Linked DNA regions of Homo sapiens. The protein of the gene in region 6 purifies or fractionates together with the protein of the main gene of each other region. This does not show direct contact. Each region holds a gene or a part of one and is shown on either strand. Other genes may lie near its edges.

The links.
Region 1: the proteins of ASB4 (region 6) and HSPB8 purify together in Homo sapiens (affinity purification with mass spectrometry, with the first as the bait; one large-scale study listed by BioGRID). This does not show direct contact.
Region 2: the proteins of ASB4 (region 6) and AKAP10 purify together in Homo sapiens (co-immunoprecipitation; one large-scale study listed by IntAct). This does not show direct contact.
Region 3: the proteins of ASB4 (region 6) and NCOA4 purify together in Homo sapiens (co-immunoprecipitation; one large-scale study listed by IntAct). This does not show direct contact.
Region 4: the proteins of ASB4 (region 6) and ZNF195 purify together in Homo sapiens (affinity purification with mass spectrometry; one large-scale study listed by BioGRID and IntAct). This does not show direct contact.
Region 5: the proteins of ASB4 (region 6) and OGA purify together in Homo sapiens (co-immunoprecipitation; one large-scale study listed by IntAct). This does not show direct contact.
Region 7: the proteins of ASB4 (region 6) and VPS33A purify together in Homo sapiens (co-immunoprecipitation; one large-scale study listed by IntAct). This does not show direct contact.

The regions. Positions count from the first base shown.
Region 1 is NC_000012.12:119,185,431-119,188,930, forward strand, and holds part of HSPB8 (heat shock protein beta-8), read left to right. Parts: intron 1-1,594; coding exon 1,595-1,658; intron 1,659-3,500. UniProt on the Homo sapiens protein: Involved in the chaperone-assisted selective autophagy (CASA), a crucial process for protein quality control, particularly in mechanical strained cells and tissues such as muscle. Displays temperature-dependent chaperone activity.
Region 2 is NC_000017.11:19,936,329-19,939,828, reverse strand, and holds part of AKAP10 (A-kinase anchor protein 10, mitochondrial isoform 1 precursor), read left to right. Parts: coding exon 1-116; exon of another isoform or gene 117-199; intron 200-3,398; coding exon 3,399-3,500. UniProt on the Homo sapiens protein: Differentially targeted protein that binds to type I and II regulatory subunits of protein kinase A and anchors them to the mitochondria or the plasma membrane.
Region 3 is NC_000010.11:46,020,624-46,024,123, reverse strand, and holds part of NCOA4 (nuclear receptor coactivator 4), read left to right. Parts: intron 1-745; exon of another isoform or gene 746-794; intron 795-3,500. UniProt on the Homo sapiens protein: Cargo receptor for the autophagic turnover of the iron-binding ferritin complex, playing a central role in iron homeostasis. Acts as an adapter for delivery of ferritin to lysosomes and autophagic degradation of ferritin, a process named ferritinophagy.
Region 4 is NC_000011.10:3,369,147-3,372,646, forward strand, and holds part of ZNF195 (zinc finger protein 195), read right to left. Parts: intron 2,558-3,500; coding exon 2,431-2,557; intron 1,925-2,430; coding exon 1,829-1,924; intron 1-1,828. UniProt on the Homo sapiens protein: May be involved in transcriptional regulation.
Region 5 is NC_000010.11:101,804,945-101,808,444, forward strand, and holds part of OGA (protein O-GlcNAcase), read right to left. Parts: intron 2,958-3,500; coding exon 2,786-2,957; intron 1,200-2,785; coding exon 1,101-1,199; intron 1-1,100.
Region 6 is NC_000007.14:95,488,943-95,492,442, reverse strand, and holds part of ASB4 (ankyrin repeat and SOCS box protein 4), read right to left. Parts: intron 1-3,500.
Region 7 is NC_000012.12:122,249,495-122,252,994, forward strand, and holds part of VPS33A (vacuolar protein sorting-associated protein 33A), read right to left. Parts: exon of another isoform or gene 3,368-3,500; intron 1,606-3,367; coding exon 1,489-1,605; intron 552-1,488; coding exon 377-551; intron 1-376.

The DNA.
Region 1 (3,500 bases), on a different chromosome or scaffold from region 6:
TCAAGCAATTCTCCTGCCTCAGCCTCCCAAGTAGCTGGGACTATAGGCACGTGCCACCATGTCCAGCTAATTTTTGTATTTTTAGTAGAGACGGAGTTTCACCGTGTTGGCCAGGAAGGTCTCGATCTCTTGACCTCGTGATCCACCTGCCTCGGCCTCCCAAAGTGCTGGGATTACAGGCATAAGTCACCACGCCCTGCCTATTATTATTATTATTATTATTTTTAGAAACAGTGCCTCTCTATGTTGTCCAGGCTGGTCTCAAACTCCTGGCCTCGAGTCATCCTCCTGTCTCAGTCTCCCAAAGTGCAGACATTATAAGAGTGAGCCACTATGCCCGGCCTATTTTCTGCATTTTCTAACATACACATGCACTATCTTAAAGCACAAAAAAAGCTATTAACAAAGAAATAATTAAAAGTAATTAGCTATAAGTTGTCAGTTTAAAAAAATCTGGACTGCTATATTCAACAAAGTTGTTTACATTCTAGATTTCAAGGCCCCTCAGAAGCACCTCCCTGTGTAAATGAGGGTTCTTGCCTCCAGAAGGTGGCCCCACAAATGAGGAGTGAAAAGTAACAGCCGAATGGCCCCACTGTTGTACTAATCTTGTTTGTTTAAAGAGAAACTACAGACACTCTCTCTATTAAAGAAAAAAAGAATGAGGAGAGACCGAGAGAATTAGAATGTGCTATATACATTACAAGATCAAAACCAGTTTAGGCCCAAGTCTTCTTGTAATTTCATCTTTTTCCTCCCTGAGGGGGTTGGGAAGCCCTCTCTTACCACAGGTTAAGAGGCGAGAGGTCTGGTGGAATTTCACATCCACAGTGCCCTTAGGAAAAGCTGGGTGTTTTTGGCAGATTGAAGCATTCTTTTTCCAGGCTGTGCTTTCACTACTGGGTACAGATAATGTGGCTTAAAGAGCTAATCGGGAGCTGGAACAGACAGAAATTCAAGAGCAGAGAGGCATCAGGACCTAGAACTTGGCCTAGACTCAGAGAGAGCTGATTCAAAGCTCAGAGCCACCAGGGACCTGCTGGGCGACCCTGGATCCATCACCAAGCCTCAGTTTCCATGTTGGAAACAAAGGGAGAACGACGTCTGGGCTCAGAGTTAGGAAAGCACTCTGTTAGCTATAAAGCAAGCTACATGGCAGAGTCGCCCTCAGCATGTGACCCCGCTTCAAGCCTGCCATCCAGTCTGGGATGTCAGACCCAGGGTTCTACTGGCAGGTTAGAGAAGAGGAGTCAGGTGGGAGACTTGGAAGATTTGGTACAACACATGGAAGATTTGGTACAACACAGAAGTTTCTGCGATTTCCTCAGACTAACCCTTAATTAACTACAAACCACGGTCTACGCCTCCTTTCCATCAATTATCTTATTTCACCTTCATAGCCAGCCTTGGAAGTGGACTTAGGTGGGTCTGTATGGCAGACAAGGTCCTTGAGGCTTAGATAACTAGAGTCTCTAGGGTAGGCCTAAGTCACACAGCAAGGCAGGTCCAGGGCCAGGATTTGAACCCAAGCCTCAGTCCTGAAGGATGCCCAAGGAACATAGATGCTGACACGCCACACTTTTCTTCCTTCCAGGCAAACATGAAGAGAAACAGCAAGAAGGTGGCATTGTTTCTAAGAACTTCACAAAGAAAATCCAGTAAGTAACCTGGAGTCATGGAGCTCAGGGTGGGAGTGGAGGAGGGGGCACACCTGGGACCCATGATCTGGGGTCTCTCCCTCTTGGGCATCTCTCTTTTAAGACACCTCCTTGGGGCAGGGAATTGAACCCTCACACCTAACGAGGAGAAAATATCCCAGCAGACCTGTAATAGGGTCCCAGAAGGGGGAGCACATAGATTGCATCATCTCATCTGCTCGGTGCCCTGTGAGGTGGGTATTAAAAACCCCATTTTATTTATTTATTATTTATTTATTTATCTTGAGACCGAGTCTCACTCTGTCACCCAGTCTGGAGTGCAGCGGTGTGATCCCAGCTCACTGCAACCTCCACCTCCTGGGTTCAAGCGGTCCGTGTGCCTCAGCCTCCTGAGTAGTTGGGATTACAGGCATGTGCCACCATGTCCGGCTAATTTTTTGTATTTGTTTAGTAGAGATGGGGTTTCGCCATGTTGCCCACACTGGTCTTGAACTCCTGGGCTCAAGCGATCCACCCACCTCAGCCTCTCAAAGTGCTGGGATTAGAGGCTTGAGCCACTGCACCCGGGGAACAACTCCCTTTTATAGACTAAGCATCTGAGGGTAAGCAAGACAATGACTTGTCCACAATCACACAGCCCCTACCCATGGGGCATAGCTGAGGGAGGACCCCTGTCACCATCCAGAAAGACCATCCCCTGATTCCCCAAATGCCCCAGCAGAATATCTTCCAGGCTGCTTGCTCAGCCTCTGCCCTGCCAGGAAAATGAGCACCTTCTCTAGGGCATCCACAAAAATGAAGTTGGAAAGTGTCCTGAGAACACTGCATACTACCCAGAGAGGTTTGGAGGCTGAGACACTGGGACACAGGAAGAGCTATTTTGCTGAGGGGAGTAGAAGGGATTCATGTTTAACAGGGAAAGGGAGCCTGGGGGAACCGTGAGAGCAGCCAAGGACAATCAGGCTGAGGCCATGAACCAAAGCCACCACGAGCCCCTAGCTGGCAGTACCTATAGGGAGCAGAGTTGCACAGTGTGGTCACGATGGCTGCACTTAAACAACTGCCAGGTGCTTCATACATACCTTCTCCCTAATCAGCAATCAGCGTCACTCCACTATGTGCGTTTCTGGCCCCTAAACTCTCTCTCTCTCTCTCTCTCTTTTTTTTTTTTTTTTTGAGATGGAGTCTCACTCTGTTGCCCAGGCTGGAGTGCAGTGGCACGATGTCAGCTCACTGCAACCTCTGCCTCCTGGGTTCAAGCAATTCTCCGGCCTCAATCTCCCAAGTAGCTGGGATTACAGGTGCATGCCACCATGCCTGGCTAATTTTTGTATTTTTAGTAGAGACGGGGTTTCACCATGTTTGGCCAGCCTGGTCTTGATCTCCTGACTTCAAGTGATCTGCCCGCCTCTGCCTCCCAAAGTGCTGGGATTACAGGTGTGAGCCACTGCGCCTGGCCCCTAAACTCTTTTCCAAGCCATCGTTGCATTTAGCCTTTGCAGCAAAAGTGTGCATCGGAGAGGAGACATGACCCTCCTTGCAATACAGGGAAACTAAGTCTCCCACAGGTGAAAGGACATACCCAAGGTCTTTACAGCTAGAATTTAGAAGGGCCCAGAATAGATCCCTGACCTCTGAGTTCCATGCTCAGTCCTTGGGCAAGGAATGCTGTTTCCTCATCTGTGAAAGGGATGCTGATTCCAGCCTTGCAGAGTTCCTGGCTGAAAGTGACATAAGGTCATGGCCCAGCGTAGGTCCTCATAAGTGGGAGTTCATTATTACTATTGTTATTGTTGACTCTTAACTTTTCCATCAGCCTTTGCAAAGAAATTCTGTGTGTGG
Region 2 (3,500 bases), on a different chromosome or scaffold from region 6:
GTGAATATCTTACAATTCTGGTTGGCAGCAGATAACTTCCAGTCTCAGCTTGCTGCCAAAAAGGGCCAATATGATGGACAGGAGGCACAGAATGATGCCATGATTTTATATGACAAGTGAGTTATATTGATAGATGGATTCAGCAGATACTTATTGAACATTTGATATGTTTTGTGGAAATAAAGATGAATAAACTCAGTCTCTGTTGTCAAGGAGCTCACAGGAGGCAGCATAAAAGCTGCTTTTATATGGTGTTTGTAAAGCTTTGGGGGTTCTTAGAACAAAAGTTTCTGCTGGGAAAGGGGAGGTGTATGTGGGGTAAACAGGATGGCAATGGTGGTGTTCAAGGAGTGTTTCCCAGAAGAGAGATTTTGTTTGGATCCCAAAGAAAGAAGGGAATTTTGCTACCCAGAGAAGGCAGAAAACAACATTCTAGGCAAAGGCATTGGCCCAGAAGCCATGGAAACGTAGGGGAAAGTGGCACTTTCAAGAAACTTGAGTTTAGATAATCAAAGGAGTGGGGAATAAATATGAGGATGCTGGTACTAATTGGAATAGATTGTAAGGGACCTTGAATGCCTATTTATGGGTATATTATACTTTCTGTATAAATCTGCTCAGGCACGTTGTTAATTAGTTTTTTATTAGTTTTCACTGAAAATGAGAGGATGGAAACATCATACAGTAAACAAAATTGAAAATATCTGGTCAGGCAGATGATGAGCTTGTGGCCAGCTCTGTAACGTATGGTATTCTTTTCATTTAACTTTTCTTACTCTGTAAAAAAAGTAATTCGTGGTCGGGCACGGTGGCTCACTCCTGTAATCACAACACTTTGAGAGGCAGAGGCAGGTGAATCGCTTGAGCCCAGGAATTTGAGACCAGCCTGGGCAACATGGCAAAACCCGCCTTTACTAAAAATACAAAAATTAGCTGAGCGTGATGGCGTGCGCCTGTTGTCCTAGCTACTTAGGGGCCTGAGGCAGAAGGATCACCTGAGCCTTGGGAGGTCGAGGCTGCAGTGAGCTGTGATCCACTGTACTCCACCCTGGGCAGGGCAGTAGAGTGAGACCCTGTCTCCAAAAAAAAAAAAAACAACAAAGGTAATTTGTTATTTGTATCCTTAAGCAAATGCTAAAGGGGTAACTTGGGGATAGAGAAAAGTCCACAGATGTTAGGGTTTGAAGACACTAATAGTATCTAGGCCAGTGGTTCCTGAACATTAGTCTGTGGGCTCTTGCTGGGCTGTCTGCATAGGAATCACCTGAGAGCTTATTAAAAATAGGTTTTCAGGCTGGTTGCGGTGGCTCACGCCTATAATCCCAGCACTTTGGGAGGCTGAGGCAGGCGGATTACTTGAGGTCAGGCGTTCAAGACCAGCCTGGCCAACATGGTAAAACCCCGTCTCTACTAAAAATACAAGAATTAGCCAGGCATGATGGCACACACCTGTAATCCCAGCTACTCAGGAGGCTGAGGAAGGAGAATTGCTCGAGCCCGGGAGGTGGAGGTTGCAGTGAGCGGAGATCATGCCACTGCACTCCAGGCTGGCTGACAGAGGGAGACTCTGTCTCAGAAAAAAAAAAAAAAATAGGTTTTCAGTCTGGGTACCGGTGGCTCACACCTGTAATCCCAGCACTTTGGGAGGCCAAGGCAGGCAGATCACTTGAGGTCAGGAGTTTGAGAACTGCCTGGCCAACATAGTGAAACCTTGTCTCTACTAGAAACTACAAAAAATTAACTGGGCATTTTGACGGGTGCCTATAATCCCAGCTACTAGGGAGGCTGAGGCAGGAGAATTGCTTGAACCCGGGAGGCAGAGGACTGCATCTCAAAAAAAAAAAAAAAAAAAAGGTTTCCAGTCCCCCTGTCTCAGAAATTCTGATTCTGCAGGTTTGAGGTGTGACCAGGAATCTTTATTTTTAGAAGACATACCAGATAATTCTGATAAATAGCCAGTTTAGGGATGTAGTCTAATTTTCCTATTTTGCAAGTAAGGAAAATAAGGCCCAGAGAGGTAATGATTTTCTCAAAGTCACAGAACAAGTTAGTGGCAGAATTTGGACTGGAATGCAGTTCTTAATGTTCTGTCCAGTGTTTATTCTGGTACAGTATGTTTGTAGAAGGTATTACGTAAGAAACATTGTTATATAGATGTTGAGATAGGAAGAGTTTACATTTAGAAATTTGGTCTAAAATGCCTGAACATTCAAGTCGTGGAGGAGTATTGACCAACTTACTCAATACAACATAGGAGATTCACATTTTGTTACAAAAATGCTGATTTAAAAGGAGAGTTTTCTTTTTTTTCTTCTTTTTTATTTTTTGAGATGGAGTCTTGCTCTGTCACCCAGGCTAGAGTGCAGTGACACGATCTCAGCTCACTGCAACCTCCACCTCCTGGGTTCAAGCGGTTCTCCTGCCTCAGCCTCCTGAGTAGCTGGGATTACAGGTGGGGGCCACCACGCCCAGCTAATTTTTGTATTTTTAGTAGAGACAGGGTTTCACCATGTTGGCCAGGCCGGTCTTGAACTCCTGACCTCAAGTGATCCACCCACCACTGCCTCCCAAAGTGCTGGGATTATAGGCGTGAGCCACTGTGCCCAGCCTGCTTGTTTTTGTATCATATATATGCATCATCATAATCATGCATTATCAACCTTTGTATTTCTGTCAGGACATAGAAACCATTAGAGTGCTTGGAAGAGAGCCTTTTTTTTTTTCTCGCATTTAATGCTTTTTTTGGTATTCATTTCATAATCAGCTTACCAAAACATTACCTGCATTATACCCCATCAAGGTAGAAATCTTTGTGTTATCAATATTGGTTACTCCCTTTCCACACCGAGTCATCAGTAAGTCCTGTTCTATCCAAATAGGTCATATGCATCTAGCTCACCCCTCAGTGCTGTTTTGTTTTGAATTTGTACATGTTTACTCCTGATGCCTTGTAGTTATGATGATGTGTTCTTATTTTATTCTGTGCATACAAGTTCTCAGCTCGCTTTTTAGGGAAAATGACCATGTCTTCCTTTCCTATAAATTCCTTTCTATCTATCAAGTCCTCAACAGAGAATAGGTACCCATAAATATGTGATTGTTAGTTTCTTTGCCTCAGTTGTAGTCTGATCCTTACAGCTTTTAAACAACAGTAGAGTTCACCGTCAAGAACTAAGGATGGTTGGCAGGCAGATAGAAAGGTAGCAAGTTGACCCAACTATCTCTGGGGAAGTGGGAACAAAGAAAGGTTACATCAGCACTGTCATCACATAGCTCTATAGTTCTAGGCCTGCAGGCTCAATCAAGTAGCCTTGTATAAGATTCTCTGGAGGAGGTGCTGAAAGTTGCTTATACTTGCTATGGAATTTGATTTTACTTCGGATATCTTTTTACCATAGGTACTTCTCCCTCCAAGCCACACATCCTCTTGGATTTGATGATGTTGTACGATTAGAAATTGAATCCAATATCTGCAGGGAAGGTGGGCCACTCCCCAACTG
Region 3 (3,500 bases), on a different chromosome or scaffold from region 6:
TTGTATGCATCACAGACAAAGCAGGCACTTCCACTCTGTTCATCTGAAATCTAAGGGATACTTAATTTAGGGTAATGGCTCCTTAGTGTTCCCCTTTGGTGTTTCTCATGTGATTTTGCTTTACTCTTAATATTAACAAAAACAGCTTTATATGCATAGACAACAGCAAGTATTTTACATTCAAAAAATCGACTGAAAGGTAATAGAATTACAACATTGTCTAGATTTCATCTTTTGGCCTGATTGCATATGCAGGCTATGAGGATTATCTTGGAGAAAAGGGAAAGCTAGAAGTACCATAAGCATGATAGTCACAGGTAGGTAGGGCTATATTGCCAGGCACTGTCCTAAACATTTTAATTCATGTAATTCATTATAGTTCATATATAATTCTCATTGAGTTGGGCCCATTATCGGGTGGAGCAAGTGGGGAGAGGAGAGGCTGGAGAGGAGCCCCAGGTGCCATCCGAGGTCCTTCTAGCTGGCCTTACCCTGGGGGCCGGGCGGGGGCAGCAGGCGTCTAGCAGGGAGGCCCAGCGGGGAGGGAGCTGCAGGGGGGCCGCGAGCGCCAGCGGGGACTGGCTGGGAGCAGGGCAACAATGGGCGGAGTTTTCCGCTCCTCCCCGCCCTTGGCTTGAGCGCTCCAGCTCGCTAGTGGCCCGGGCGAACTGGAGTTGCCGTGTGACGCGTGGGCGGGACGAGGCCCGGGCTCGGGGACCTTTCGCACTCGGGTCAGGGGTAAAGCAGCCTGTCGCTTGCCGGGCAGCTGGTGAGTCGGTGACCTGGCCTGTGAGGTACGTCTGGCAGCCCAGGGGCCGTAGCGGGAGCCCTTGAGGCCGGTAGCCTTGCAGGGCTGGCGCCGGGCAGGAGCCGGGTCGCAGCGGCTGACTGCACAACTGCGTGCGAATCGGCGACCGGGGCGAGGGCAAGGGCTCCTGAGGCCGCTTGGAAAGGGCTTTTGGGAAGTCTAGAAAGCCGCATGAGTCACTGTTGCTTTCGTATTAGAAATGCCTTGTTTTCGAATTAGAAATGCCTTGCGGTCGGTTTTCAGTTACTACTTTAGAAAATTGATGTGCTGGGATTTATTGCCCTCAGTTGCTTGTATAAAGGTGGACAAATCTGAGCCTAGTAAACTCTGAAGTGTTAAATCTTAAAATGTTCAATAGTGAATTTATTATTATCTTATTTTAAATCTGTTGCGATATTAACGTTTGTTTGTGTGGTTTTAAAAAGATTACAGAGAACCAGATTCTGGATTTCAGAAACTGCTTGTCTTGATAAGGAATTTAAAATGGGCTGGGGCTAAGGTAAGATGTATATAATCCTTGAGTTAATGAGTTGTATAAAAAACAACCTTTAGGCCGGGCGCGGTGGCTCACGCTTGTAATCCCAGCACTTTGGGAGGCCGAGGCGGGCGGATCACGAGGTCAGGAGATCGAGACCATCCTGGCTAACACGGTGAAACCCCGTCTCTACTAAAAATACAAAAAAATTAGCCGGGCGTGGCGGCGGGCGCCTGTAGTCAGTCCCAGCTACCTGGGAGGCTGAGACAGGAGAATGGTATGAAGCCGGGAGGTGGAGCTTGCAGTGAGATCGCGCCACTGCACTCCAGCCTGGGCGGCAGAGCTAGACTCCGTCTCAAAACAAAAAAAAAACCCAAAACCAACCTTTAAAAAAAAGACGGAAGAAAGAACGTGTGAAGTGAAAAAAGTCTCAAGGTAAAATTGCAAAATATTTTTTAACATAATTTTTTTAAACTAAAAGCTTTACAGACGGTCTAATGCAGGTTGTCTCATCAAAGATAACCAAATTGTTCAGTTAGTATTTCGAGTGTAGTACTCATAGAACACATAGGTATCCTGTGGATAGATGCTGCGCTTGGCCTTTTAGCAATGACTAGGATGCCAGGCAAATAAGTAAAAAGTAGAGGTCTTTGGAGGGGCAGGGGCAGGTGGCAAGGGGGGCAGAGAATGTGAGAGTTGGAAGGTGAGGTTACAGATGATCTAGTCTGAGCTTTCATTCTTACAGACGAATGAAGCCTGGAGTGGCTGTGATACAGACGTTGAATCAAAACTATTTGCATTGGTATTTGGCAGTGTTTTGGTTTTTCTGAGCCTATCATGACATACAAGGGTACTGTTTATTTATTTATTTATTTATTTTGAGATGGAATTTCGCTCCTGTTGCCCAGGCTGGAGTGCAATGGCTGCGACCTTGGCCCACTGCAACCTCCGCCTCCCAGGTTCAAGCGATTCTCCTGCCTCAGCCTCCCGATTAGCTGGAATTACAGGCATGCGCCACCACGCCCGGCTAATTTTGTATTTTTATTAGAGACAGGGTTTCTCCATGTTGGTCAGGCTGGTCTCGAACTCCTGACCTCAGGTGATCCGCCCACCTTGGCCTCCCAAAGTGCTGGGATTACAGGCGTGAGTCACCGCGCCCGGCCAGTACTATTTTTGTTAGTGTTATCCAAGGCAGAAGATTCTGAACAATTGTGGTTATAATTTACTGAGGACTATGAAAATTGACTGAAAATCTTAACGGAAGTTATTTCAATAGTAATCCATTGGAATGTTAATTTTAATCACTAGTGTTGGCAAGTAAAAATACTTTACAGGTGATAATACACTAAAGGAAGAACAAGCTCATCTGGGAGAGAGAACCCAGGACTAGACCTTGGAAACTGTAGTTCTAAACCCAAATCTTACCCCTTCTGGCTGTGGCCCTTCAGATGGGTCACTTAAACTATCTGGGCTTTTGTGGCTTCATATGTAGAATGAGAGTGTTATATTAAAGAGATGACCAAGATTTTTTCCAGCTTTATTTTTTATTTTTTTAAAGAGGCTTGTGAGGAGCTATTTTTCAGCTTTAAATTGTAGTTTGTGTGGGTCACAAGAGTTAAAGCTCTTTGGAAATTTTATGGTTAAGCCATACAGTAATGACTTAGCTTCATTACATAACCACTTCATTTGTGGTTAGTTGCTCAATTCTGGTGCCATGATCTTCAGACTTCACAAATAGATTTGTGCAAAGCATTGTGTAAGCATGGCATATATAGTTTAAAGAATTCCTTGTTGCGGAAACTCCAGGTTTTGTTATTCGTTTGAAGGGTATGTGTGTTTCCTCCTCCTTTACTTCCTCCACCCCCAAATTTAGGACAGGGATACTAGAGGCAGGGAAGTTTTAGAAAGCACTTAAACTTTTAATGTTGTCTCAAAACATAAACATTTAAGGCAGTCCTCTTTTGAAGATGGCAAGGCAATATTTTGGATTATAATGGTGAAGATAAAAAGACATTTTTAGTAATCTTTTATTGATTTGAATATTAGGATCAGAGCTGATTTGGTCCAATCTTTCTACACGTAAGAAAACAGTCAAAAATATCCATACTTGGTATATATTAGAGGATTTAGACTATTGAGTTTTTGGAGTAAATAAAAGATTGCCTTTTGCTGTGCTGTATAGTGAAAGACTAGATGGAAATCTAATATTTATTAAAT
Region 4 (3,500 bases), on a different chromosome or scaffold from region 6:
AGTAACATATTAGGGCTGTGCAAAAGTAATTGTGGTTTTTGCCTTCTAAATAGTAAGAAATACTCTTACTTTTGCGCCAATCTACTAACAATGTTGATAAGGATGTAAAGAAAAAACAATTCTGAACGCTCAGAGTTCTCAACTGGTAGAGTCATTATGAAAACCAGGGTGGGGGGGCGTTATTTAAAAGTTAGAAAAAGATAAACCTACCCTGCAACGCAGCAATCACACTTCTGTGTATATAATAACTGAAGGGAATAAAAGCAGCATCTTGAAGAATTATCTGCTCCCTCATGTTCACTGCAGCATTATTCACAATTGTCAAGATATAAAGACAAGCTAAACGTTTGCGGATGCTGAATGGATAAAGAAAATGTGATATAAATAGACAATAGAATATTACTCAGCCATAAAAAAGGAATGAAATCCTGTCATTCAACCACGTGGATGACCCTGAAGGACATCCTGCTAAATAAACTCAGCCAGGCCCCAAAGACAGAGACTGCACGTTCCCCCTCAGACGTGGAATCTGTCGTGGCTGAACTCACAGGAGCAGAGGACAATGGCAGTTGCCAGGGCCTGGAGTTGGGGAAAATGAGCTGTTGTTCAAAAGGTACAAACTTTCAGTTGTAAGATGAGTAAGTTTGGGGAATCTAATGAGTAGCTTCACGAATACTATTAATAATCTTTTGTATGCTTAAAGTTTGCCAACGGTAGACATTAACTGTTCTCACTACAAGAAAAGGTAATTACGTGAAGTGATAGATTTGTTCCTTGAAGTGATTGCACTAATTATTTCACAACGTATACACATATCAAATTATTACATTGTACACAATATATACACAATTTTTATTTCTAAAATAATCTGTTACACATATGCCCACATAGACACACTGTATATATGTGTGTGTATATATACATGAATGGATAAAGAAAATATGATTTAAATAGACAACAGAATATTACTCCAGCATAAAAAAGAATGAAATCCTATCATTTCAAAAGGATATGTTGATATATTATATATACACACATATATGATATATACACACACATATATACACACATATATACACACATATATACATATGCACACATACATACATATGAATGACAGAGTCCTGATAAGCCTCATACTAAAAAAGAAGAAATTATAAAATGATAATATTATAACTATTACAGTTGGGAGTTAGGGAATATAAAGTTTAAATGACCAACCTCAGCTCATACTAAAAAAAATAAAATAAAATGTTGAAGTAAAATAACATTAGATTATCTCATATTTGGGCAGATGCCTAGTGTTCGGAGAAAACTGCTGAGTATACATTTCTGTAGACTCCCATTTGAAACCTCTGTAGGATACGAAATCATAAAGCAGAAAGCATACAACATCTGTTTACGGGACTTCTGGGATTTCTGAACCAATCACCATCACCACGCCTCTCGCACACTTCAGACATGATGCAAAGGAAATCAAAAAACATTTAACAGAGTTCCTCAAAAACAGGCAGGTACAGGCATGTTCCCAAAAGCAGTGGCGGAGCACGCCATGAGACCACACAGGCCCTTACTCGTCAGGAGGAGGACTCTGATTTTTACTGTAACCTTTATAAAGGAAGATCACTAAACAGGAAGCAGAGTCTATACAAAATTTGAGAGAATGAGACAGAAGACGCTCCTAGGGTACAGCAAGAGAAAGACACCCAGGCTCTCAGAAACCATCTCCACTAGGGCAGAGCTTCTCAAACCACATTTTAAGGTCTGGCTTCCTCCTCGACCTCTGGACCTCTCACCTGGGTTACCTGCTTCGTTCATTCCCACCCACCTGGATGTCCGTCTGCTGCCTCCTGTCTCTTCACATTCCAGGGCTCTTTTCGTTGCTCCAGGCAGGTGATCAGGCCTGGCTTACAGACAGTGAGACCTGTTTTATTAGAAAAAAGTGACATTACTCTTGCTGAAATTCTCCAATTATCAACCTTGTACTGTGCTTAGTAGAGTGAACATTATATAAGATTCTAGAAAATTAATCCCAAAATTATGCTTCCTGACATCACCTTTAGAATATTCAGTAAGTATTTTAAATCTGTGGGTTCTTAGTTTCACCACTCAGTACTGCTGACATAAAAAATTGGTGGTGGAAATTTGACTTTAAGTTGTGGGCAACAATATTTCATGCCACTGAATTTCTGGAATTGTCACTAGAGTGAAAGATACAGATCAGCTGAAAAAAAAGGAAGGTTTATGTCAAGATGAACCACATTTTGAAGATTTTTTTTTTTTTTACATCAACTATTCCCCATGTTTTTCTTAAAAGCAGGGATCTGAAACTCATTCATGCAACGCAGAAACTCCCAAAAAACATTCCGCAGAGGAACGAAAGGAACTCTTTAGGGCATAGGAGGAACTACGTATTGAAGTTATCCTCACCAACGGAGAACAAGTTTCTGTAGTTCTCCAACATCACATCCCTGTACAAATTCTGCTGAGCGAGGTCCAGGCATTTCCACTCCTCCAGGGAGAATTCTATGGCCACATCCCTGAACGTCAACAGAGTCTGAAGAAGAAACAACAACAATAACAAATACTTGATTCGAGGTGAAATGAGCGAGTGAAGAGAACTGGTTCTGACTTACACAAGTGACTGAAATTATACAATAAGGTAATTCTTAGCAGAAGAATACTCTCTAACTCTGAGGAAAGAGAATTGCCTGAGAGCCACATAAGCAGTGTATATACAATACTTTTCTGGTTGATAACAAGTATAACATTAAGGGCATCAACAAAGGCATGTCCATTTTTGAGTGCTACATTTACGTCACATGAATAAGCTGTGTATATTTCGCAGGCAGAAAAGTCATGGTGAGTTAGAAGCTGCCTCTCCAATTTTCATGTGTCCAATAAACTAGTGTGCAGATTTTGCTTCAGGAAATCGGAGGTCAAGGCTGAGTTTCCGAATTTCTAACGCGCTCACCAGTGATGCCAGTCCTTTGGGCCCAAGGACAATATTTTGTCAAAAATCCTGTAAGTGGCAAGCTTGGGTTTATCCCAGTTTTTCTAAACCATAAAGAGAGATGAGATTCTTCATCTTCTAAAGCAAGGCATATGCAAAAAGAATCTAAGAAGCAAAACCTTTCAGATTAAATGTGATTATTTATGCACATTAATTAGTAAATCTCCTCAAGGTACTTAAAAGAGAAAAAAATAAACTCCACAATGGAAAATCTGTCAGGGAGCTCTTTAAACAACTGAATAAAACTAATATCAACTGTAATAGGACAGATTTTTATCACGTGCCAATGCACAGAGAAGGACATATTACTGGTGTGATATTGGCCAAAAGGTCAATTATAATCTGAATCAAATCATACCGAAACCTTAGTGTTATGCAAAGTTCAAGAGACAAATAAATATCTCCCAGGTTCTGACAAATATCTCCCAGGTTCTGACAAATATTTCCCAGGTCCTGACAAATATCTCCCAGGTTCTGACAAATAAAT
Region 5 (3,500 bases), on a different chromosome or scaffold from region 6:
TTTTCGTTTTATAAAATAGAAGAGTTTCCTAACGCTGCTTAAGGATGGGATCAATACCTTTTAGCCCAATTCCCTATAAATCTTTATTATTTATTAACTGAATTTTTTTTGAGACAGGGTCTCATTCTGTTGCTCAGGCTGGAGTGCAGTGGCATGATCACAGCTCACTGCAGCCTCTACCTCCCGGGCTCAAGTGATCCTTCCACCTCAGCCCCCTAAGTAGCTGGGACTACAGGTGTGCACCAGCCCACCTGGCTAAGTTTTTTATTTTTTCTACAGTCTCTCTATGTTGTCTAAGCTGGTCTTGAACTCCTGGGGGCTTCCACCTCAGGCTCCCCACTCAGGCTCCCCAACCATGATAGATGTTTTTTCATATTAAGAGAATATGTAAACTTTGTAAAAGAAAGCGTATTTTAACAAGTTCTCTGGGCCAGGTGCAGTGGGTCACATGTGTAATCCCAGCACTTTGGGAGGCCGAAGTGGGCAGATCACCTGAGGTCGGGAGTTTGAGACCAGCCTGGCTAACATGGAGAAACCCCGTCTCTACTAGAAATACAAAAATTAGCTGGGTGTGGTGGCGTGTGCCTGTAATCCCAGCTACTTGGGAGGCTGAGTCAGGAGAATTGCTTGAACCCGGGAGGCAGAGTTTGCAGGGAGCTGAGATTGTGCCACTGCACTCCAGCCTGGGCAACAAGAGCAATGCTCTGTCTCAAAAAAAAAAAAAAAAAAGGCCAGGCGTGGTGGCTCACGCCTGTAATCCCAGCACTTTGGGAGGCCAAGGCGGGTGGATCACGAGGTCAGGAGATCGAGACCATCCTGGCTAACATGGTGAAACCCTGTCTCTACTAAAAATACAAAAAATTAGCCAGGCGTGGTGGCGGGTGCCTGTAGTCCCAGCTACTCGGGAGGCTGAGGCAGGAGAATGGTGTGAACCTGGGAGGCGGAGCGTGCAGTGAGCCGAGATCATGCCACTGGACTCCATCCTGGGCGACAGAGTGAGACTCCGTCTCAAAAAAAAAAGTATTCAATTAACAAGAACAAGCAATTTCTGCAAGTCCTACTTAATTCAACTTTGACTGTATAAATCTTAAAAGACTTACCTGTCCAAAGCACTTCAATTCCAGGTAGAAGCTTTTCACCCACAGTCCTTAAATATGGAGACTGAGACACATTTGGATAACAGAAAGTGCCACAGTATTCTAAATGTAGGGAGAAAAGTAAAAAAGTCAGAATTAAAATGCTCATGGGTTTTCTCTTTGTTTGTTTGTTTTCTTTGAGACGGAGTCTCACTCTTGATGCCCAGGCTAGAGTGCAGTGGCACGATCTCGGCTCACTGCAACCTCTGCCTCCTGGGCTCAAGCAATTCTCCTGCCTCAGCCTCCCAAGCAGCTGGGACTACAGGCGCACGCCGCCACGCCCGGCTAATTTTTTTTTGTATTTTAGTAGAGATGGGGTTTCACCATGCTGCCCAGGTTGGTCGCAAACTCCTGAGCTCAGGCAATCCGCCCGCCTTGGCCTCCCAAAAGGCCCATGGGTTTTTGAATGTGGAAAAAATGTCTGCCAATTCTAAATTATTTTCATCTAAATGATAAAAGGCCTCCTACAAGGAACTAAAGTGGGCAGTTCATTTAAGAAATTCATAAAATCTGGTATTTTTCCTCCAACAGTAGTACAGATCAATTCTTACGATACTACAGTTACTAGAAATACAAGTTTACTAAAAAAACAAGAACTGCAGCATTTTCTACAGAATTCTGAATTGCCTACTTTTCTCAGTTACAATTAAACGCCAAACAGAATGAATTGATAATATCATAATAGAACTAATACAAGAATATGCCAATGGCAGCTGGGCACAGTGGCTCACACCTGCAATCCCAGCATTTTGGGAGGCTGAAGCGGGTGGATCACTTGAGCCCAAGAGTTCGACACTAGCCTGGGCAATATGGCGAAACCCCGTCTCTACCAAAAATATAAAAATTAGCCAGTTTTATAGCCCGGTCTCTAAATAAATAATACAAACTTAAAAGTAAAATTTAAAAAAAATTTTTTTAAAGGCATATACCAATGGCTATTAGTACTCAACTGCAACTTAAACTGTAACTTGCAGCTAATTAATTCCCAGTATAATCTTAAAACTTCTGGGTACTAATGTAGTACTCAACTAAAATAAGGTTCTCGGCTCACAATACACACAAAGAAAGTTAAATAATTTAATCTAAAATTCTTCCTGAACAAGGAAGTGTGGGGAAAACTTCCTGTAAGTTGAATTTTGAGAAGCAACTAAGAGACTAAAATATTTTCAATGAAAGAAACCAGAGGGGCAAAAAGAAAGGAAAACGGGAAAAACTGTTAAGCTTTCTATGCTGACTACTTGAAATAAGAGCCCAGATGGGAGTGGGAGGAGTGCAAAAAGGGACAGATATGCATGGGCAGAAAAAGGGGACAAGTAGGAGGAAATGAGAAGTGACTAAGGTAAAAGCAATGTAATTTGGTTTTTCTCCAGTTTTCATTTCAATACTATCCCTCTTTTAATATTGACAATGTAATGTTCATATACTTCCAGTACTTAAAAATACATAAAAATCTTTTGCCTAGTCAGTTGTCATTTATTAGTTCCTAAAATTTCTCCAATTTAGGATCTTGAAAAATGTCTTCTAAAAAAAGATTCCTACTTTTACACACCAAAGGAGGAGGGAAGTGGAGAGAGAATGGGGCCCATGGTCCTTTATAAGTTATATATTCCAAGAAGACTAGTTAAATGTAAAGCCATTATATACAATACCTGTGGGACAGAAGAGGAAAGTTTCTGGCTCTCCTAGGTACTGATAGATTTCATTTGTGATGGAGACTTGGGCATGAGCAAAAGAACTGAATACCTCTTTGTCTGCTGCACACATATTATGGTCTATATCATCAAAAAGCAAAGCAAATGATCTGCACCCAAACTGAGAAACCTAGGAGAAAAAAAAAAAAAAGAATCAAGAGTAAAAAAATTAAGAATTCCAAACATTACAGCGTTAACAGTTATACTTAAAATCCAGTATTTTCCTTACTAGAATGTTCAAAGACAGATTTATTGTTTTTACATTTTCAATTAAAAAATCGTAAGTTAAACAGTTTTGGGACCCATTTCTCATTTGGGTTTGAATGCACTACAGGCTGAGTATTCCTTATCTGAAATGCTTGGGACCAAAAATGTTTTGGATTTTCATTTTTGTTTTTTCCTGGATTTTGGAATATCTGTATTATATTCAGCATCCCTAACCTGAAAATCCAAAATCTGAAATGCTCCAATGAGCATTTCCTTTGAATTTTATGGAGCTCAAAGAGTTTCATATTTTGGAACATTTCAGATTTCTGAATTAGGGATACTCAACTTATATGACAATATGATCCAACAAAGTGGCCTAGCCTCCTAGTCCTCATGGGCTGCTGCTGATTGTAGAAGACCCAACAAAGTCAGAAAAATACAGAAACATGAGTAAGTAACCTTAAGA
Region 6 (3,500 bases):
TCTTTGTCTTTGTGGAAGCAGAATAGAATTACCTCCAAGCCTGCTTCACAAATCACAAGGAAAGGAAGAAGATCCTCAATTCATCTGTAATATTTCACATCTCTGATATGGAAATGCATTTGCTAGTTGAATTTTTTTCCTCCTCCTAACTTCCAGGTAGCACCTAAAGACTCTATCCTGTTCGTGTATTATGTGAGTCAGTCATCCTTGGCCTCTCAGTCAGTTTCTTCTGCATCTCCTGTAATCATAAACATTATCTGGTCAATCAGGCTCACAGACTACAAGGTCCTGGAATTCAGCCAACTCCCAGAATGGAGTTGTGGTTACAACTCACCTCTCCTAAGATAGGAATGTGTGTAGGTAGGTGGTAACAAGACACCTTAGCTGCTGCCTCTGGGGAGCTGAAGTGGAGAAATGGCAAGAGGACAGTTTGCAGGCTATAGCTTAGGGTATACTGAAGTGTATCTGGAAGCTGTGTTGCAAAACTTTGGTGGTAATGTGGGGCTAGGGATTTTTGAATAATTCAGCCCTGAGCATATCAGGAAAGTCTGCTGCTTTGAGCAGAGAAAAGAGCAGCCCCTGGCAAAAGGGCCATCAGCGTACAATCATCACTTTAAAATGAGGCTGGGCCTACAGGTCACTGTGTAGCAAGTGTGGAAGTAAATACACTTACTGTCATGGAGGACCAAACCCCAGGTAAAGCTATCTTCAAAAACTACAGATGAGGCTGTGCCTATTCACAATCTTCTGCTGATGCTGATATGTCAAGAGATCAGAATTTGTCCCCCAAAATATAACCACCAATGACCACAGCATGCTAGAAACACAATTAACTGATGAGGCAGATTCATTTTTTACACACTCCCTTCTTCCCACAGCAAAATTTTTCCAGGGCTTCGAAACCTAGAATGTGATTTATTCCTAGTATTTGTCTTTCAAAAGCCCCCCTCTGCTCACCTCTGCAGACTTCAGGCTGCCCTTTTACTATGTGTTTAGACTTCACAAAGGACAGAGGTGAGGGAGAACCGGGGAACCAAGCCCATGGGAGCTAGGGGTGGGAGGTGAAGCAGCGGCTGCCTCCCTCTAATGTAAACCACTCACACGCTACCCCATGTCTAGAGTCTGTGTGCAGTGACAGCTCCTTGCAGAAGAGTTCTGTTTGAATAAGAAGCTCCACTAAGAAGAAAAGAAAAATAGAGATTATTTCCCCTGTGTACAAAACCCACAGGAACTCCCAAATACAGGCCATGCCCATGTGGCTTTGACCATGATACATAATCTGTTTACATAGTTTCACCTTCATAATGTGATTAATTATCTGCATGCCAGAATCTGAACTTAGAGAGGGTCTTGTCAAAGCTTCCATTTTACAAATGAAGATAATTAGTCTGGAAGAGGTTAAGTAGTATAAAGTGTCCATGTTCATATAACAAGTACCCACAGAATCAACTCTAACTCTCAAACTCCATTGCCCCCAAATCTTTAAATAGCCGTCTATGATCCGAAGGCTACATGCAGTTTACCTCCAAACTGATATCACTTGTAGCTAAAAGTTCTAAAGGAATTTGAGAAGTTTTATCCCTGAAAAGAAAATATGCAGACTAATCGTGTGTGTGTGCACGCGTGCGCGTGTGTGTTTAATTTAAATCTGAAACCAAAGAGATATGCCCCAATAGCTGGGTAGAAAGCTGCCTAGAAATATAGCAAGGAGCAAAGTGTTTGGGCCTTCTTTTGGAAGAGGGGATTGGTTCTGCTCCAGCGTTTGGAGAGGATGTACACATTTCTGGTAAACCTTCAGCTAAGCCTGGGCTCTGCAACAGTTATCAACTATAATGTTATCTGAGTCAAAAGAACCCCACACATGAGAAGCCTCTGTTATTACAGCCAAAGGTTACACACACTGCTCGTGGCTGGATTAGCAGACATTTGCTCTGCCTGTGTCCATGTATTTACACAGTCCTGAAGGATTACAGACTGAAGCACAATTCTTGGCTATTTTTTAATAGCTAATATTTTCCAGATAACTCAAAGTTCCCCTGGGAAGGGGGGATAAAAGCAAGTTTGAAGTGTAAAATGTAAAAGAAAAAAGTTTGAACATCGAAGAAAGGAAAAGAACCCTAGGATGGAAATGGGAAAGCAGGAGAGTGAATTTCTGGCAAAGAGGAAAATTAGGTGATAAAGAAATTATTCATTCAGAGAGTGGAAATAAGAGCTTTCACAATATTGGGATATAAGTTGCTACTTAGTAAAGGAAACAGAGTACCTGCCAGAAAGTTTTTTAAGTGAAATCATTCATTGGTTATTTTAATTAAAAATATGACTACCAACCAAGGAATCAGTGGCTATGGGCCATAAACGAAGTACTTAAAGTGCATTACCCTGATTAATAAAAGGACTCTGATTAACCTTGCTGACTAGGGAATTTCATACCAAAGAGATAAGTATGAAATTCTGCCTGTATCATTTATGAGCAAAAGCTCATACATCTGAAGGAAGATCAAGTTGGTAAAGCCTTTGGAAACAGTTTTATGGACAGTCCTTCGTCTTTCCAGTATGGAAGTAACCAGTGAAAACCAATAGAAGGGACATTTGTGTTTTCTTTAAAGATTTCTTCTGTGCTTGACTTCACTCTAAATACTCAGTGGTTGGCTCATAATTAATGTTATATCACTGACATCCCTTGACTTTCAATGACTTATTGCATTTGGCAGTTAGAAAGTCATTCTTTATGTTTTCTTTATATCGTTTTTATTTTAAAGTGATCATCTGGTAAACGCAATTTTGGCTTACTTGTTTTTGCTTTTAAGACCCATTATCTCCGCCATTCCCAGGGAGGTCTCTCAAATGCCAACCAGCACATTTTAAATGTTTGCTTTACAAAATGTGAGAAAAGTTTCTTTAAATTAATAAAACATGATTTCATCTGCAGATTTTATTATGAAGCTTAAAATAACTTAGAAAAGTAAAGTGAGAGCTCTCTAACTTTAAGAATCATGATTAGGTGCTGGAGAAAGACAGGATCCACAGTTTGAACATGAACTCTGGAGGCTGGCTTCTAAATCTGTTCTCTGCCAAATTGGTAAGAGAAGCTATTCAATGAGATGGGCCCAGTGCTACAGAGGAAAGCAGAAATGAGCTTCCAGACTTATTTGTAATCCAATAGCTTTATTCTGTCTTCCTCACAAAATACACATTTCATATTTGCTTATGAGCTAAACTTTTGATTACTGGTGTGCCCAGTAGATTGTAAATTTGGGAAGCACTATTTAGATTTTAGGTGATTTATTTGCCAGCAGAGTTCTGAGTTCCCTTTTCAAAAATTATACACTGACTTTCATATAGGCTTAGATGGACTATATTTAGGGATAAAATTTAGTTACTTCTTAAATCCTATAAAAATGCTGTATGTTCTAAATAAATAAGAATGGTTTAGAATTGATTGTACTACTTTTCACTTTCTATAGGACTATCAAATGTTGAATATAGAATTTTAGTATTGA
Region 7 (3,500 bases), on a different chromosome or scaffold from region 6:
AATTACAAGTGTGAGCCACCACACCCAGGTGGTTCCATAATATTTCATAATGTACTCAACCACTGAGATTGTTTGGAAAATTCTGGTAAGAAAATGGAAATCGAAATTCTTATGCAAACCTCACTGATCCTCTTTTTTGGAATGATTCCTCAAGGCACATTCTTAGGCTTTGGGTTTTCTTTGGCCAAGGGTTAGAAAAGTTTTATGTGTTGCTAAATTGCTTACAAAAAGGTCTGTATTAATCTACACTCTGAATCATTAAAATCGGATCTCTGACTTTAAATTATGCTTAAGTGTGCAATATACAAACAGTAGCCTCCACAAAGGATATTCTTCTCATATTACCTATTAGTGAAAACAGATGTCATGTACTTACTGTTCTGAATGCCATAAATTTCATCAATGAGTCCTTCATATGTCAGCTGAGTGGCAAGAGGTGTTAATAAATCCACATTCCGATCAAGCAACAAGAGATTATCAAAAACAGGAAATATTGAATTCTGGCTTCCTGTAAACTCTCTCTTCATCCTGATCATCATATTGGCCACTTGCTGGAAACAAAACATTGGATGAGGTGGGGCCCCCCTGGGAACAAGCAGATTTTAAAATTTGTCTAAAACCAGAAAGACAATCAAAAAAGTAAAAAAGGAGAAAAACTGGAAGAGTGCATTGCTTAGAAATAAGCAGCTCTAGAAAAGCACCTTGCTGTTGGCACCCATCCCGACACTTGCACCAAGGCAGCTGCCATTTGCCAATGAGGCATAAAATCAGGTCAGTCTATTCTTGTGATTCGCAGTAGTTATGTTCTATGAAGTCACTGCAAACACTAAATTAGCGAAGATGGAACCACTGTTCCTAGGAGAAACGCAGACTTAGGTTCCTGGGAGCCTCTGGTCTCAACGTTTCTGTCAATTGATCAATACGTAACCCAGTTTTATATGTGTTTCTGCTTAAAGATGCCTGACTTAACATAATTGTTGATCACTCACACTGAACTGACAGCCAGCAGCTCTGTGACTCGTGCCTGAACGAAGCGTCTCTGACACACGTAATGTCTCCGCCAGGCACACCACAGCCTTCTTGTGCACAAGACACCCGACTGCACCTCAGTCCTACATTTGCAGGCCATTTTAAACAGTGAAATCACCAAAAAAAGTACACACGTGTGGAAAATATGACAGTGAGACTGTGAAAAGTACACTTGTTTGCAGTCTGAGAGCTGAAATGGGAAGGTGGAGTGTCAGCTGCCTCAGTTGGGAACATGCGCAGTGGTTACTCAAACTGTCACCACTGTGCACGCCGACAAAAGCACCATGAGTACTGACTTGGAGGGTTATAAGTGCATTTTAATCAGTAGGCAAATTCATGAGTACAGTATTCATAAATAATTAAGATCAACTGAATTTGTTTGTAAGGAGCTTCCCGTTCCTCCTCCCTTTTGGGGTGTGAAGGGCCCTCCTTTACCACCACAAAGCAGCCGGTTCTCACCCGAGCGCATTCTCCTTTCCCAAAGATCTGGGGGATCGTTCCATACAGAGCTTGCAGGGTCATCAGCCCCTTGGCTGCGTGGTACAGGCTCGTCTGGTCACCCTCCAGGTAGCACTCCTGTGAGGGAAAAGGCCAATTATTGCCAGGCCATGGGGGCCTCCCAGGGGCCCATCTCTGTTCCTGGGGCTGGGGTGCAGCGACAGACAATAAAATCATTTCCAGTTATTTCACACTGTGCCAGGAAAATTGGGGACTCAAGTTCATTTTCCAAAACTGCTGCCTGTCAGACCAGGCGCTGAGGCTGGCAGCCCCAGGGTGGGTGCAGCCGTGGAAGCACCTCTCCTGGGCAGAGCCGGGGCTTCTGGGAGAAAACTGTTCACCCAGCATGCCAGCTCTTCTGAATCAGCTCTTAAATAAAAGACGGAAGAATACAGACTTACACTGAACGATGGGTTCCCATTCACTGGTGAGAGTAAACTCTGGTAGGACATGCTGGGAGAGCGACATGCTAATACCCAGAAATGCAAAAGACCACAGGACGAATACTTTATTGTTTTCAAAAAGGATGAGGCAGATTTTCATGACAACTGACAACTGAAGGCCACAATCTGTTGAGTATGATCTCATTTTATAAAAAATATATATTTTTGCATTGAAAAAAGGACCTCCAACTCAGCAAACTATCACAAGGACAAAAAAACAAACACCGCATGTTCTCACTCATAGGTGGGAATTGAACAATGAGAACACTTGGACACAGGAAGGGGAACATCACACACCAGGGCCTGTCGTGGGGTGGGGGAAGGGGGGAGGGATAGCATTAGGAGATATACCTAATGTAAATGATGAGTTAATGGGTGCAGCACACCAACATGGCACATGTATACATATGTAACAAACCTGCATGTTGTGCACATGTACCCTAGAACTTAAAGTATAAAAAAAAAAAAAAGAAAAAAGAATCTCCAAAATACACACAAAACCACCTGGGAAGGCTAGGTGCAGTGGCTCATGGCTGTAATCACAGCACTTTGGGAGGCTGAGATAGGAGGATTGCTTGAGCTCTTGAGTTTGAGACCAGACTGGGCAACATAGTGAGACCCTGTATCTATAAAAAATTAAATAATTAGCCAGGGATAGTAGCATGCATCTGTATCTGAGCTACTCAGGAGGGTAAGGCAGGAGGATCACCGGAGCCCAGGGATTTGAGGCTGCAATGAGCTATGTTCGCACCGCCACACTCCCCTCTGGGCAACAGAGCAAGACCCCATCTCTTTTTTTATTTTTATTTTTATTTTTTTTTTGAGATGGAGTCTCGCTCTGTCGCCCTGGCTGGAGTGCAGTGGCGCGATCTCGGCTCACTGCAAGCTCCACCTACTGGGTTCACACCATTCTCCTGCCTCAGCCTCCCAAGTAGCTGGGACTACAGGCGCCCGCCACCACGCCTGGCTAATTTTTTTGTATTTCTTAGTAGAGACGGGGTTTCACCATGTTAGCCCTGATGGTCTCGATCTCCTGACCTCGTGATCCGCCCACCTCGGCCTCCCAAAGTGCTGGGATTACAGGCGTGAGCCACCGCGCCCAGCCGACCCCATCTCTTTAAAAAAAAAAGAGAGAGAGAAAAAAACCACCTGTGAGGTGAGAGGAGGGAAGCAGTCACTTTTGATACAGGTGGATCAAAACACAGGTTCTAGACTCAGATTGCCTTGTTCTGAATCCAACTGTGTCACTTACTAGCTGTGCCCTGGGCCAGTTAGAGAATCTCTTTGTGCCTCAATTTATTCATATGTAGAAGGGAGTATAGTCCACATAGGGCAAGTATTAAATGAGAAAAATACATGTAAAGCATTTAATCCCAGTACCTGAAACATACAGCAAATGCTCAGTAACAGTTAGCTTTTATTTGGAATTATTTAGGTTTTTTTACAACCATTATCCACTCATAAGTCAATATGGTACATTTTATCAATTCCCTCCACCCCTACCAACCCAACATGTCCCTGCTGTCCACA